4 linked regions of the Homo sapiens genome follow. The protein of the gene in region 2 purifies or fractionates together with the protein of the main gene of each other region. This does not show direct contact. Each region holds a gene or a part of one and is shown on either strand. Other genes may lie near its edges.

Evidence for each region. The genes of interacting proteins can lie anywhere in the genome.
Region 1: the proteins of SLC4A1AP (region 2) and SMC4 fractionate together in Homo sapiens (co-fractionation; one large-scale study listed by BioGRID). This does not show direct contact.
Region 3: the proteins of SLC4A1AP (region 2) and WIPF2 fractionate together in Homo sapiens (co-fractionation; one large-scale study listed by BioGRID). This does not show direct contact.
Region 4: the proteins of SLC4A1AP (region 2) and MINDY3 fractionate together in Homo sapiens (co-fractionation; one large-scale study listed by BioGRID). This does not show direct contact.

What each region holds. Positions count from the first base shown.
Region 1 is NC_000003.12:160,409,650-160,413,149, reverse strand, and holds part of SMC4 (structural maintenance of chromosomes protein 4), read right to left. Parts: intron 1,231-3,500; coding exon 1,066-1,230; intron 825-1,065; coding exon 697-824; intron 1-696. UniProt on the Homo sapiens protein: Central component of the condensin complex, a complex required for conversion of interphase chromatin into mitotic-like condense chromosomes.
Region 2 is NC_000002.12:27,691,389-27,694,888, reverse strand, and holds part of SLC4A1AP (kanadaptin), read right to left. Parts: intron 1,205-3,500; coding exon 1,135-1,204; intron 256-1,134; coding exon 206-255; 3' UTR 1-205.
Region 3 is NC_000017.11:40,267,804-40,271,303, reverse strand, and holds part of WIPF2 (WAS/WASL-interacting protein family member 2), read right to left. Parts: intron 1-3,500. UniProt on the Homo sapiens protein: Plays an active role in the formation of cell surface protrusions downstream of activated PDGFB receptors. Plays an important role in actin-microspike formation through cooperation with WASL.
Region 4 is NC_000010.11:15,840,008-15,843,507, forward strand, and holds part of MINDY3 (ubiquitin carboxyl-terminal hydrolase MINDY-3), read right to left. Parts: intron 3,266-3,500; coding exon 3,205-3,265; intron 1,593-3,204; coding exon 1,419-1,592; intron 1-1,418. UniProt on the Homo sapiens protein: Hydrolase that can remove 'Lys-48'-linked conjugated ubiquitin from proteins.

The sequences.
Region 1 (3,500 bases), on a different chromosome or scaffold from region 2:
GAAAAAATAAAAACAAAAAAATCCCAGCAACAATAATAATAATAATAATTAGCCAGGTGTGTTGGTGTGTGCCCTGTAGTCCCAGCTACTCATGAAGTGGAGGTGGGAGGATCAACTGAGTCCGGAAGGTTGAGATTGCAGTGAGCCGTGATCACACACTGCACTCCACCCTGGGTGAAACAGCCCATCTCAAAAAACAGTTCATCATAAGCTGAAAAAAATCAGATCTGCTATTACACGAATTTTAAAAAGTGCACACGTAAAAGGACTGAGTACAGTAATAAATACCTGTGAACCTACCTCCCAACTTAAAGCAGGATACTAAAAAGTCAACTTCAATGAATTAATATGCCTAATTTAATAAATTCAACCCTGGTGATCAACGGGATGACAGGTGTCACAGCCAGATAGTCCTCACATTGGATAAGTTCACCACATAATTCCTTTTTTTGTAGAGATGGGGTCTTGCTATGTTGCCCAGGCTGGTCTTGAACTCCCAGCCTCAAGTGATCCTCCTGCCTTAGCCTCCCAAAGTGCTGGAATTACAGGCATGAGCTAACACATTCAGTCACACAAAACAATATTTAGAGATTTTTTTTCACTTCAGTCTTCATGTTTCTCTAGGAAAAGAGAAGGGCTTTGACTTAATGGTTAAAAACTAATATAAAAATTGGTAATATCAATCAAGGCACTTACATATAATATTGACAAACATGATTCTTTTTTCTAAATATTTCATTTTCCAAGGTAAGAAATTCGATAGCTATGTTTTTCTCTCCTTCTAAGGCATCCTTTTCCTTTTCCACCATCTTTACCCTGTTTAACTACAGAAATTAAAAGTTTAAAGACTGAATACACACTTCATATGTACAATATGAACTTAAAATATGCAAACATTAGATAAAAACAGTTAATAAGGAGAATGTTCATCTTAAATGTTAAGATATAAATTTCAATATAACACTTCTTCATTAAGTATTATAACATGAATATCTGACTTACTAAAATTTGTTAGATCATAAATGAAACATTCTGATTTACAATGAAAGTCTACAGATGATTCACCTTCTCTCCTCTGTGTTCATTTAATATTTCAACTCTCCGACACAAGACTTTAATAGGTTCATTTAGCCGTCCACAACCAATTATATCTTCTAAATATTCAAGCATACCCTCATCGTGTTCAGTCTGGCCTTTTGGTTTCATCATAGCAATTTGTTCAACTTCACCCTTTAAAAAAAAGTTATATTTCATACTCACTGTGTATGTTTAGCTAAATCAATCTTAAGTGAGAATTGGGAGCAGTTAAATAATAAAGCCAAGAGTAATAAACATCTAAATAATGTACAGTTAGTAGTGCAATGATTTAATAAGGTATAAATAAAAATGTTATTTTCACTGGTATTCCTAAGAGTTTTAATTTTACACAGGGAGATATGAAACATGAATTTATATTCCCTTAGATAAATCCTTATAAAAGTGTAATATACACCCACTTACACACACTCATTTCCCCAACTAGAATGTTCAATATAAATAAATAAAACTTGTTTCTTTAAGTAAAATTTAGGAAAGCTTTCACTTAATCTGCAATCTGATTATAGTGGAAACATTATCAATTGTTAATAACACAATTGAAGCTCCTGTTCTAAAACAAAGAATTTTCAAAAACACTTGCATGGTTAAACTGTGTTAGGAACCCTGTCCCAAAGTAGTATTACCAACTTTCTCTACAAACATGGTTTTTAGGAGTTCCTTAACAAGTAATGGGTTTCAAAGGTAGTCAAAAACTTACATGTTCAGTTTTCTAAAAACAAGAGCCTTTGACAGAAAAGGATATTACCTATTTCTCATGGTAATAACAGAAATCAAACAGACCACCTTGACTAGAGAAAACTAATGGCACTGGTACATAAGACATCAGAAAACTTTCAGTTTGTAATCACTAATATAACAACTTTGAACTGTAATTAAAATCTTAGATTAACTTTACATATTTGCATTTATGCAGTTTAATTATGAAGAGTAAAGAGAAAAAAAATCCATAATAAGTAACCATCAAGGCTGACTGCTAGGCAGTCATTTAGTTTGATGGTGGAGAGAAAATTGTGTCTGAGTATGTTCAGGCCAAATGCTGCTACGTTATAGGAGTAGCTTGTTTGTACTCTAGACTATTACAATGGAAGAATAGGTACAGGCAAATGAAAAAAGATATACCTCTTATTTTCAACAAAATAGCAAAGACGAAAAAAGTCAACAAAAAGAATTACACATTAAAAATAGTATATTGTTTTCTTAATTCAAATATCTTAGTGATTCCTATTTCCTAAGTGAATACAGGTGAACCTTAAAAATGTGGGGTAAAACTTACTAATGAGAGCATCATAATTCACCAAAAGCCTCAACATAATTACAAAAAGTAAACAATTCAATAACAGTGGACAAAACAGCTTATTTGAAAATCTACTCATTAAGAAATAATTTTATTTGCATAAATCACTTTTCGATACTTCTGACAGTCTATAAGCACAATGATTATCAAAGTAAAACTGTTACCCCAAAAGTTATTTTCCATAACATTCATTATATTATGTATGAATCGGTATATAAGTGAAAATATGTAGATATTTATATAAAGTATTTTATTCTGCTTTCAACTGTTAGTTCTCTCTAAATGTTTGCAGCAAGAGTTTAAGTTTTAGACAGGATTGAAGCCTGGAAAAATGCCCAAACCTTTGGATTACACAGGATGAACGTTAAGTCACTGAGGAAGCCAAGAGTCTTATTCAAGTTTGTATCTACGTAGGGTTTATCAACAGTGGCACTACTGACATTTTGGGCTGGATATTCTTTGTTGTGGAGAGCTATGCTGGGCATTATAAGATGCTTTAATAGCATTTCTGACCTTCACCCACTAGACACCAGTAGCATCCCCACTTCTACCAGCTATAACAACCGAAACTGTCTTCAGACGTTACTGAATGTCCTATGGGAAAAGGGGCAGAATTACTGTCAGCTGAGAACTACTGATCTAGAGGCTGCAGTTTGTTTGTTCACTCATTTATTATTTTTTTGAGACAGGGTCTTGTTCTGTCACCTAAGCTGGAGTACAGTGGTGTGGTCTCAGCTCACTGCAGCCTTGACCTTTCAGACTCAAGCGATCCGCCCACCTCAGTGTCCCAAGTAGCCGGGACTACAGATGCACACCACCACACCCAGCTAATCTTTAAAAAAAAATTTTTTTTGTACACATGGTGGTCCCTCTATGTTGCCCAGGCTGGTCTCGAACTCCTGGGCTCAAGCGATCCTTTTGCCTCAGCCTCCCAAAATGCTGGGATTAAGGGCATGACCCACCATGCCTAGTCTAGAAGTTGTAGTTTAAATCCTGTGGGTTAGTGTTTATCATCCAAATAAAAAACAATATCTGACAATTAATATTCTACCCAATTCAAGGAGAATATCTGAACACTTATTTTAAGAAAATGAAAAACCATCCCAAA
Region 2 (3,500 bases):
TATAAACACTTTTAAACATAAATATCAAATGCATGAGAATCATATGGGCAGATAAATTTAGGAAGCCAAGAACACAGAACGAAAAGCCAGTCACCAGATCTTACAAATAATCATCTAAACTTCTCTGGCCATTCAATTTGATACATTATCCCAAATATTCCATGTCACATGGTCCACAAGGTTTTCTTTTGGGATTCTGAAGCAATCAATAGCCATACTTGTCATTAAGATGGGTTCTGCCATCTCCACTTTGACCTAGATCAGAATATAAAAAAAGAAATACATTATTTACTCTTCCAAAGTCAGGAGAGAAAAGATATCCAGATATCAGTAGGCCAAAAAGTAAAATAGACAAAAAGGTTTATTCTACGGTAGAAATTTTACTTTTTGTATGAAATTTCAAAATACAGCCCTCTTTCATTTCTACCCTAACATTTGTTAGCATAGAAAAAGCAGACATCTCAAGTAACTAAATTATATTAGTTACTAATATATTAGAAATCTCAAGCTGTGATGAACATATGAGGAAGTAAGTATCTCATACATTGCTTTAAGGGTGTGTGTATGAGCATAAAACTGGTACAATCTCTATAGAATGCAATTTATAATATCTTTAAAATGTTTATACCTTTGATCCAGCAGGTTAACTTTTATGATTTTTTTTCTATAGATGCTCCTCTCTACTTAGCATTTTATATATAAGTATCCATAAGAAACTAACAACAATTGGTTGTCTTGTGAGGAAAACAACCGAGTAGCTGAGGCACAGCCAGAATTGTTTTCCTTTCTTTTGACTTGGTAAAACCCAGATAACATTACACCTGTAAACACTTCCGTATATATTCCTAGAAGACAAGGACTTTTTCCAAAAAACATAACTCAACATCATTCACACTTTAAAAAAATAAAAAATAATTTCTTAGTATCATCAAATATCCAGGTAGTGTTCAAAATTATCTGACTGGCTAATAATTTTTTTAAACAGTTGTTTGTTTGAATAAGGATCCAAACATGGTATACAAATTATCACTACATACTCTTGTAACTTTCTTATGTTGAACCTTAAATCTATATTACCTATTCAAAAATATAAATAAATGAACCTTAGAGGAAAAAAAAGTAAAAACAATCTACCTTCAGGTGGGACCCACACACAGTAGTCTGGGTCATCTTCAGGATATTTGGAAGAAAGTGTTGGTGGAAGCTAAAAAGAAAAGATGGATTGTTTTATTCACAAGAATTTCTCTCCAGAAACCTTACAACTGCAGAAGGGATTGGGGTCCTATTGTTAGCCTCCTTAAGCAGAATAAACATTAGTCAAGAATTTTGTATCCAACAAAACTAAGTTTCATGAATGAAAGAGAAATAAAGTCTTTTTCAGACAAGCACATGCTGAGGGAATTTGTCACTACCAGACCAGACCTACAAGAAATGCAAAAAGGAGTTCTAAATCTTAAAACAAAAGGTTGGCATGCACCAGAATAGAACCTCTTGAAAGCATAAAACTCACAGGGCCTATAAAACAATAATGTAATGAAGGAAGAAAAGTATCTAGGTAACAATCAACATGATGACTGTAACAGTACCTCACATCTCAATATTAACATTCAATGTAAATGGTCTAAATACTCCACTCAAAAAAAAAAAAAAAATCACAGGCTGGGCGCAGTGGCTCACACCTGTAATCCCAGCACTTGGGGAGGCTGAGGTGGGTGGATCACCTGAGGTCAGGAATTCAAGACCAGTCTGGCTAACGTTGCAAAATCTCTACTAAAAATACAAAAATTAGCCAAGTGTGGTGGTGTGTGCCTGTAGTCCCAGCTACTCGGGAGGCTGAGGCAGGAGAATCACTTGAACCCGGGAGGCAGAGGTTACAGTGAGCTGAGATCACACCACTGCACTCCAGCCTGAGCTACAGAGCGAGATTCCGTCTCAATAAATAAATAAATAAATAAATAAATCGCAAACCAAATATCTGCCATCTTCAAGAGACTCACTTAACATGTGAGGCTTCTTATAGACTAAAGGTAAAGGAGTGGAAAAAGATATTCCATACAAATGGAAGCCAAATGCAAGCAGCAGTAGCTTTTCTTATATCAAATAAAATAGAATTTAAAGCAACAACACTGAAAAAAAGACAAAGAAGGCTATTATATAATTATAAAAGGATCAACCCAACAAGAAGATATTACAATCCTAAATATATATGCACCTAAAACTGGAGCTCCCAGATTCATAAAACAACTACTACCAGACCTAACAAAAGAGAAAGACAGCAACACAATGATAGTGGAAGACTTCACACTCCACTGACAACAGCAAACAGATCATCAAGGCAGAAAGTCAACAAACACTGGACCTATACTATACTCCAGAACAAATCAACTAACATATTTACAGAACATCTACTCCAGAACTGCAGAATATACAATCTTCTCATCAGTGCCTGAAATATTCTCCAAGATAGACCATATGATAGACCACAAAACAAATCTCAAATTTAAAAAAATTGAAATCATATCAAGTATCTTCTCAGACCACAGTCGAATAAAACTAGAAACCAACTTGAAAAGGAACCTTCAAAACTATACAAATACATGGAAATTAAACAATCTGCTTCTAAATGATTTTTGGGTTAACAATGAAATCACTGGAAATTTAAAAATTCTTCAAAATAAATAATAGTGACACAAGTTATCAAAACCTCTGGGATACAGCAAAAGCAGTGCTAAGAGGAAAAATTTATAGTGTTAAATGCCTACATCAAGAAGTCTTGAGCCAGGCATGGTGACTCACGCCTATAACCCCAGCACTTTGAAAGGCCAAGGCAGGAGGATTGCTTGAGCTCAGGAGTTCAAGACCAGCCTGGATAACATAGCAAGACCTCATCTCTATTTAAAAAAGAGAGAGAGAGAGAGAGAGAAAAGTCTGAAAGATCACAAATTGACAACCTAATGTCACACCTCAAGGAACTAGAGGAACAAGAACAGACCAAATGAGGCTGGGCGCGGTGGCTCATACCTATAATCCCAGCACTTTGAGAGGCTGGGGTGGGCAGATCGCTTGAGTCCAGGAGTTCAAGACGAGCCTGGTCAACATGGTGAAATCCTGCTTCTAACAAAAGTACAAAAATTAGCTGGGCGTGGTGACACACGCCTGTAATCCCAGCTATTCAGGAGAGCTGAGGCAGGAAAATTGCTTGAACCCGGGAGGCAGAGGTTGCAGTGAGCTGAGATCGCACCACTGCACTCCCTGGGCAACAGAATGAGACTCTGTCTCAAAAAAAAAAAAAAAAAGAACAGATTAAACCCAAAGCTAGCATAAAAGAAATAACAAAGATCAGAGCAGAACTAAATGAAATTGAAACAAAAGAAACTGCAAAAGATCAATGAAAAAAAAGGTGGTTTTTGAAAAGATAAACTAAATTCATAGATCATTAGCTAGATTAGACAAGAAAAGAAGATTCTATATTAGTTCAATTAGAAAGGAAAATGGAGACA
Region 3 (3,500 bases), on a different chromosome or scaffold from region 2:
ACTGTTTTTAGTAGTAAAACGGTATCTTGGCTAGGCATAGTGGCTCACATCTGTAATCCCAACACTCTGGGAGGCTGAGGCAGGCAGATTGCTTGATGCCAGGAGTTCGAGATCAGCCTGGGCAACATGATGAAACCTCACCTCAAATTTTAAAAAAGTACAAAAATTAGCCAAGCGTGGTGGCACACGCCTGCAATCCCAGATATTCTGGAGCCTGAGGTGGGAGGAGCTTGAACCTGGGAGATGGAGGCTGCAATAAGCCAACATCGCGCCACTGCACTCCAGCCTGGTGACACAGCAAGACTGTCTCAAAGAAAAGAGTATCTTATTATTCCTCCTGATTACTATCAGAATTGCTGTAGTGACTATAGTTAAGCATGTAACACAGTAATAGAATAACATACACACACACACACACACAATCTGGCACAATAAGCCCAATAAATGTTTTTGCTTCCCGTAAGACACACTCAGAATGTCAACTCTTCCTCACTGTTTCCAAGCTTTGTTCAGTAGAAACAGGGGACACTAGATGCAATAATTAAAGAGAAATCTTGTAACTCCCAGCAGATCTCTGAGCCTTGTTTTGATTCCAAATCTACTCAAACTAAAGCTCTTTAAGAATAGAAGCTTCTTTAAGCCCTCAAAAATATTCCCTAAAACCCAGATTCCTCAAGGCCCTGAGAATTTGTATCTACTCCTAGGCCAGGGCAGCAAGGTAAACAGGGTTAGCCAGGTTCACAAGGACACCGACACCAGCTAGACACCAGGCAGGTGACAGCGATGAGACGACCTGGAATGGCAAAATAGAGCAGGGTAAGAGTGATCTGTTTGGCTTCTCCAGCTCCCTCCCTCATCCCAGCCAGGTTCTGCTGTCTCCAATAAGCTTCTGGGCTCTTTGTCAGATCCAGTTATTTTTCTTTTTTTTTTTTTTTTTTGAGACGGAGTCTCGCTCTGTCCCCCAGGCTTGAGTACAGTGGCACGATCTCGGCTTACTGCAAGCTCCGCCTCCCGGGTTCATGCCACTCTCCTGCCTCAGCCTCCCCAGTAGCTGGGACTACAGGCACCCGCCACCACGCCCGGCTCATTTTTGTATTTTTAGTAGAGAGACAGGGTTTCACCGTGTTAGCCAGGATGGTCTCAATCTCCTGACCTCATGATCTGCCCGCCTCAGCCTCCCAAAGTGCTGGGATTACAGGCATGAGCCACCGCACCCGGCCCCAGATCCAGTTTTAAGACTGTTTCAAGTGACAGAGCCAGAACTCCAGTCCCTAAAAAACAATTTCCAAAAGAAGTCCTGGGATGGGAGACAGGCTTTTGTAATCCAAGATTAACCCTAATTTTGAGAAAAGTATGATGGTTTCTATTTTTCTCAAATTCCCTTAAAAATGGACAGTGTTGGCGGGTGCAGTGGCTCATGCCTATAATCCCAGCACTTTGGGAGGCCAAGGCAGGCGGATCACAAGGTCAGGAGATAGAGACCATCCTGGCTAACATGGTGAAACCCCATCTCTACTAAAGATACAAAAAAATTAGTCGGGTATGGTAGCGGGTGCCTGCAGTCCCAGCTACTCGGGAGGCTGAGGCAGGAGAATGGCGTGAACCTGGGAGGTGGAGCTTGCAGTGAGCCGAGATCGCGCCACTGCACTCCAGCCTGGGCGACAGAGCAAGACTCCATCTCAAAAAAAAAAAAAAAAAAAAAAGACAGTGTTTTACTCTGCAAAGAAAAAATTCTTGAAACAAACTCTATGAACCAATAATGCTAGTTTTTGGGTTTTGGGGGGGCGGGTTTTGAGGCAGGGTCTTGCTCTGCTGCCTAGGCTGGAGTGCAGTGGCGTGATCTCAGCTCTCTGCAGCCTCTGCCTCCTGGGCTCAAGTGATCCTCCCATCCTAGCCTCCCAAGTAGCTGGGACCACAGGCACACGCTACCACGCCTGGCTAGGTTTCTTAAATTTATTTTTATTTATTTATTTATTTATTTTTTGAGACAGAGTCTCGCTCAGTCACCCATGCTGGAGTGCAGTGGTGCAATCTTAGCTCACTGCAACCACAATCTCCCGGGTTCAAGCGATTCTCCCGTCTCAGCCTCTCGAGTAGCTGGGATTACAGGCACCCGCCATCATGCCTGGCTAATTTTTGTATTTTAGTAGAGAGATGGGGTTTCACCATGTTGGCCAGGCTGGTCTTGAACTCCTGACCTCAGGTGATCTGCCTGTCTCAGCCTCCCAAATTGCTAGGATTACAGGCGTGAGCCACTGCACCCGGCCTAGTTTTTTTATTTTTTGTAGTAATGGGGTTTCACCATGTTGCCCAGGCTGGTCTTGAACTCCGTCTCAAGCGATCCTCCTGCCTCAGCCTCCCAAAGCACTAGGATTACAAGTGTGAGCCTGTGTCCCTGACCCCCACTGTACTTTTCAAATGTACATTTTACAGGTGAGAAAAGAGAATCGGTGAGAAAAGAGAATCAGTGATCTGTCCAATGTCACACAACAAATCGAGGCAATACTCAAATGATCTCTGACTAAAATATCTCAATTTTTTTCTGGTTTATCACTCTTAAGAATTGCTGCTCTAGCCAGGTACAATTGCTCACATCTGTAATCCCAGGGCTTCGGGAGGCCAAGGTGGGAGGATGGCTTGAGCCCAAGAGTTTGAGTCCAGCCTGGGCAACACAGACCTCATCTTAAAAAATAAAAATAAAAAAAAATTTTAATGAGCCAGACATGGTGGCAACACTCCTGTAGTCCTAGCTACCACAGAGAAAGAATGGAAAAGTGGGAAGCAAGAAAGCCTGCAGACATTTAAAAGTGCTCAGCTCAACCCACGGAAATTGCATTTTTCTCTTCTTCTATTCCTGGATGAGGTCAGAAAGATATGAGCTTTGCTCAGACAAAGAGTCTTTTGTAAAATCCCTAAGTTAAAAAAAAAGTCAAACCTGAACTTTATAGAATCAAGGGCCACCTTAGCACTACCTCATTATGGCTAAAGCTAGGGAGATATGGGATCAGGAATGCAGTAGGCCACTGTTTGGCTGCCCTATGTTAGATGGCCAGCTGCTAGAGTACAAATCTGTATGTACTGAACAAAGAAGCTGCACACAGGTTAATGGACTTTTAATGCCTTGCTACTTAATGATATAACCTTTACCCTTTTTTTGGGACAACGTCTTGCTGTGTTGCCCAGGCTGAAGTGCAGTGGCACTAATACAGCTCACTGCAGCCTCCACCTCCCAGGCTCAAGTGGTCTTCCCACCTCAGCCACTCAAGTAGCTGGGACTACAGGCATGCACCGCCATGCCAGGCTAATTTTTTAAAATTATTTTTTGTAGAGACAGGGTTTTGCCATGTTGCCCAGGCTGGTCTCGAACTCCTGGGCTTAAATGATCTGCTGGCCTCAACCTTCCAAAGTGCTGGGATTAAGGCGTGAGCCATCATGCCCAGACTCCATGACATAACTCCTTAATCAATGTTCTATACCTGTAGAAACTGACTTTAAAATAA
Region 4 (3,500 bases), on a different chromosome or scaffold from region 2:
CATAGTATGCACTCAGTATACTGTTAAGATACTAATGGAAAATGTTATATAAAAAGATCTTACTATTTTCTCACATCAATATACAGACTGGCTTTAAGCACAAAATCTTTAAAATACCTTTTCAAAAGATCAACAATTCCTCTTTCAAAATTTTAATATCCTAAATGAACCTATTAAGTGTGCTAACACCCACACAGTAAAACCTGGAGAATATGTTAAAACCAATCTTAGTGACACTTTGGACTAGCATCCTTGTGACTGTTTTCCACTTGTTGTCTTCAAATGTCATTATAAACTCTAAAATATGTTAAGTTCTTTTTGAAAGGCCATATTTCAAAGGCTTCAAAAGGAAGCATCATATAGCTGTTCAAATGTTCAAAATTATTCCTTGCAAATGTTACTACTATTAGAATTTGCCAGGCTTAAGGCATTTTAACTGCAGAGGTAGGAGAAAAAAGACACTGACAACACAGAGGCATTTTAGTCCAGGGAGGCAACAGCACCTTATAGATAATACTATATGGAAAGCAAAATGTGTATCCCATACAATTGAAGTGTACTTTCAGGTACGTAATCTCTTTACGAAAACTTTCCACAAAGATGATAGTTAATGTGATGCTCTGTGGGTAGAATAAGTCACTTATTTAACATAAGCACTTGGGACTACCAATTATAAAAAACCATCAACTAGCAAGATTATTCCTGAAAAGCAAATCAGAAAAGCAACTCTTAACTAGCTTCCGTACCACTAGCTGTCTCCATTTCACACTGGCAGCTTTCGGGTCAATTACATAACAATTTTCAAAAGTTAAAAACCACAGAATATATAATTTTTATGAATAATGAGAATAGCTATTATTTAACGTAAACAGCTATTATTTAACTTATCTTCAAGGTATGAAAAACTTAAGGCATAATTAAAATTGCCTTAAAATAATCTATATGTATAAAAATATCCAAATAATTCGGAAAGAAAAGAAACAGCTTGCAATGAGGAGAAATGTCCCCATCTTTGCTCTGGGAAGCAAGTAAAGATAACTTTATGAAATCTTCTGATGTCCAAAAAAATCCGTTTTTGCAATACCAAAGCAAAACATTAAGGCATCTGAAACTGAAGCATATCATTATTTCTAAATAAGAGTTCTAAAGCTCAAAAGAGATTATTATCAAGCAGAAGTTAACCAGAACATTTTTAAAAGTTTAAGAGATGCATTTTTTTTTGCAAAAATGTAGTATCTTCTAAGTAGTTAAAATAAATGATATGGAAATAAAAAATAGTGAGGCTCAGTAATTAAGCTTAAGCTGGAAAAGAATACATGTTATGAAAATTTTAAGTAATTTTTTCTTCAAAATATTCAATAGATTCATTAAAACAAAGGAACAAGAAAAAAACTTCAGGAAATAAAAATATATCTTACAAGAATGTTCCACTTGGCAACTAGACTCTGCAGGACTCCCAGAAATACTAGCAGTTTCCTCAGTTGTCTTTCCTCTTAACCATGAAACCAAGCAGTATGATCCAGAGTGGTCACAACAAGCACTTTCTAAAATATCACACAAGGTATGACAAAGGAGTTCCTTCTGCTCTTCCTCTAAAAATAACCAAAGCATAAGTTATAATGGTTTCCTCTGGAAAAAAAAAAATTCTGTCATGAATAACAATAGTAAGAATGGGTTAATGATGAAAATCAAGCATTTTAAAAATGGGGGAAAAATCTCTAAATAGATTTTAAATTATGTCTTAGAAAAACAATGTGTTTGTGGATTAAAATATCACCACTTTAAATAAAGCCATCCAAATAACACCACCAAGTAGAAAAAGAATACTGAAAAATGCAGAACTAAACATTATGAAAGATCATAATGTGACACTGATCATCACTTTCTTAAAACTTTAGCAACTGCAGCATTTAAGCCAAGAGGTTTCCTCTACTGAAGAACTGAGCACAATGTAAAGGCCTGTTGAAACCTCTATTTTTTTTCCCTCACATCTGAATTAATCTAACGTCTATGATCACCCCGTCCCAAAGGGATAAGAATAATGAGATGAGAGACCGTCAGCACATATGTTACCAAAGTCCATTACATCAGCAGAAGCCAGTGGTTAGAATACAGATTTGAGCATTAGAATTTTATAGAAAATGGCGCAAATGCTCAGACCATCTCTTTATGAACCTTAGCCACACTCTTTTCAAGCAGTATTACTCTCAAGAAGTAGTATTACTTTCTGAAACTTTCAAAAATTTTATGATACAAGGAGGTTTCTGTCTCTCCTAATGGATTAACAGTTCTTTAACTGCAGGAACTATGCTGTTCACTTTCTAATCACCACAGTATTTATGACACTTATGACAATGCTTTACAAATGTTTTATCAAAGTGAATATAGTGAATATAGTATAAGAAATAGTATAAATTTTATTAAAAGTTCATTTCAAAAATAGTATCTCAAATAGTTTCTTCTCTACTAAAATTTGTTTTGTATTTCACCTATTAATTTAAAACTTATGGAAGTGATCCCTTAACTCTTAAATTCAAAATCATTAGTAGATTCTATAGTCATGGTTTGGAATGTAAGCTGTTACATCCTTAGATACAAAACTGGGATTGTAATGTGTCCTAACTTCTTCCAGAATTTACTGTGAGGTTCACAGGAAATTGTGTAAGTGAAGGAAAGATCTTTGTAAACTGTCACGTGGAATGCAAATTCTTGTTATTATAAGGTGGCACCACACATCTCTCTGGGTACAGAAGCTCATGTTACAGAAGCTATGACAGCTTCATTTGCAATTTCATCCAAAATTATTTGCAGTATTTGCATTGTGTAAGGCATTATACTAAAACATGCAGGAATATAATGATAATTCTGAGGTCTTGCCCACAGCTAAATAAGACTACAAAAAAAAAAAAAAAAAAAAGACTGTTCTTTATGGCATGCTGCCACCTAACAGTTCTAGGAAATGCACCGTGTTTTACCAAGAGGCCAAACGTTTTTCCCTTAGTTATACCATCATGTCTTATAACCCCTGGTTAGAAAGCCAAATTTGGAAATATGGAGTCACTGTTCATGAAACTTTCTAAAACATTTTAAAAGGAAACCTCAGGAAAAAAAATTCCCACTGATACTTGACTTTCTCAGATAATTTTAGATCATCTCTATTAAAACAGAGGAGGAAGCAAAAGTTTTAAAAGACAGCTATCATACCTGAACAATCCCGCCAAGAAGACTTCTCCGAAGAAAACAGGAGCTTCTTCAAAAGAAATGCCTTTACACAATTAAAGCAATAATTAGTGAAATGCATTATAACCATACATCATATCATTCTTCAATTTTAAAGTGGGAAAAAATAATGTGTACTCCCTTTCTAATCTTTTGACTAGTTCTGTAAAGATGTCAAATGGGTTCCCCTCACATTTGACAGGAACTGTGCAGTTATTTATTCAGAGTATACTGCTATAAACTTGATTCTAGATTCATAAAATTCTTCTTCTTCCACAATA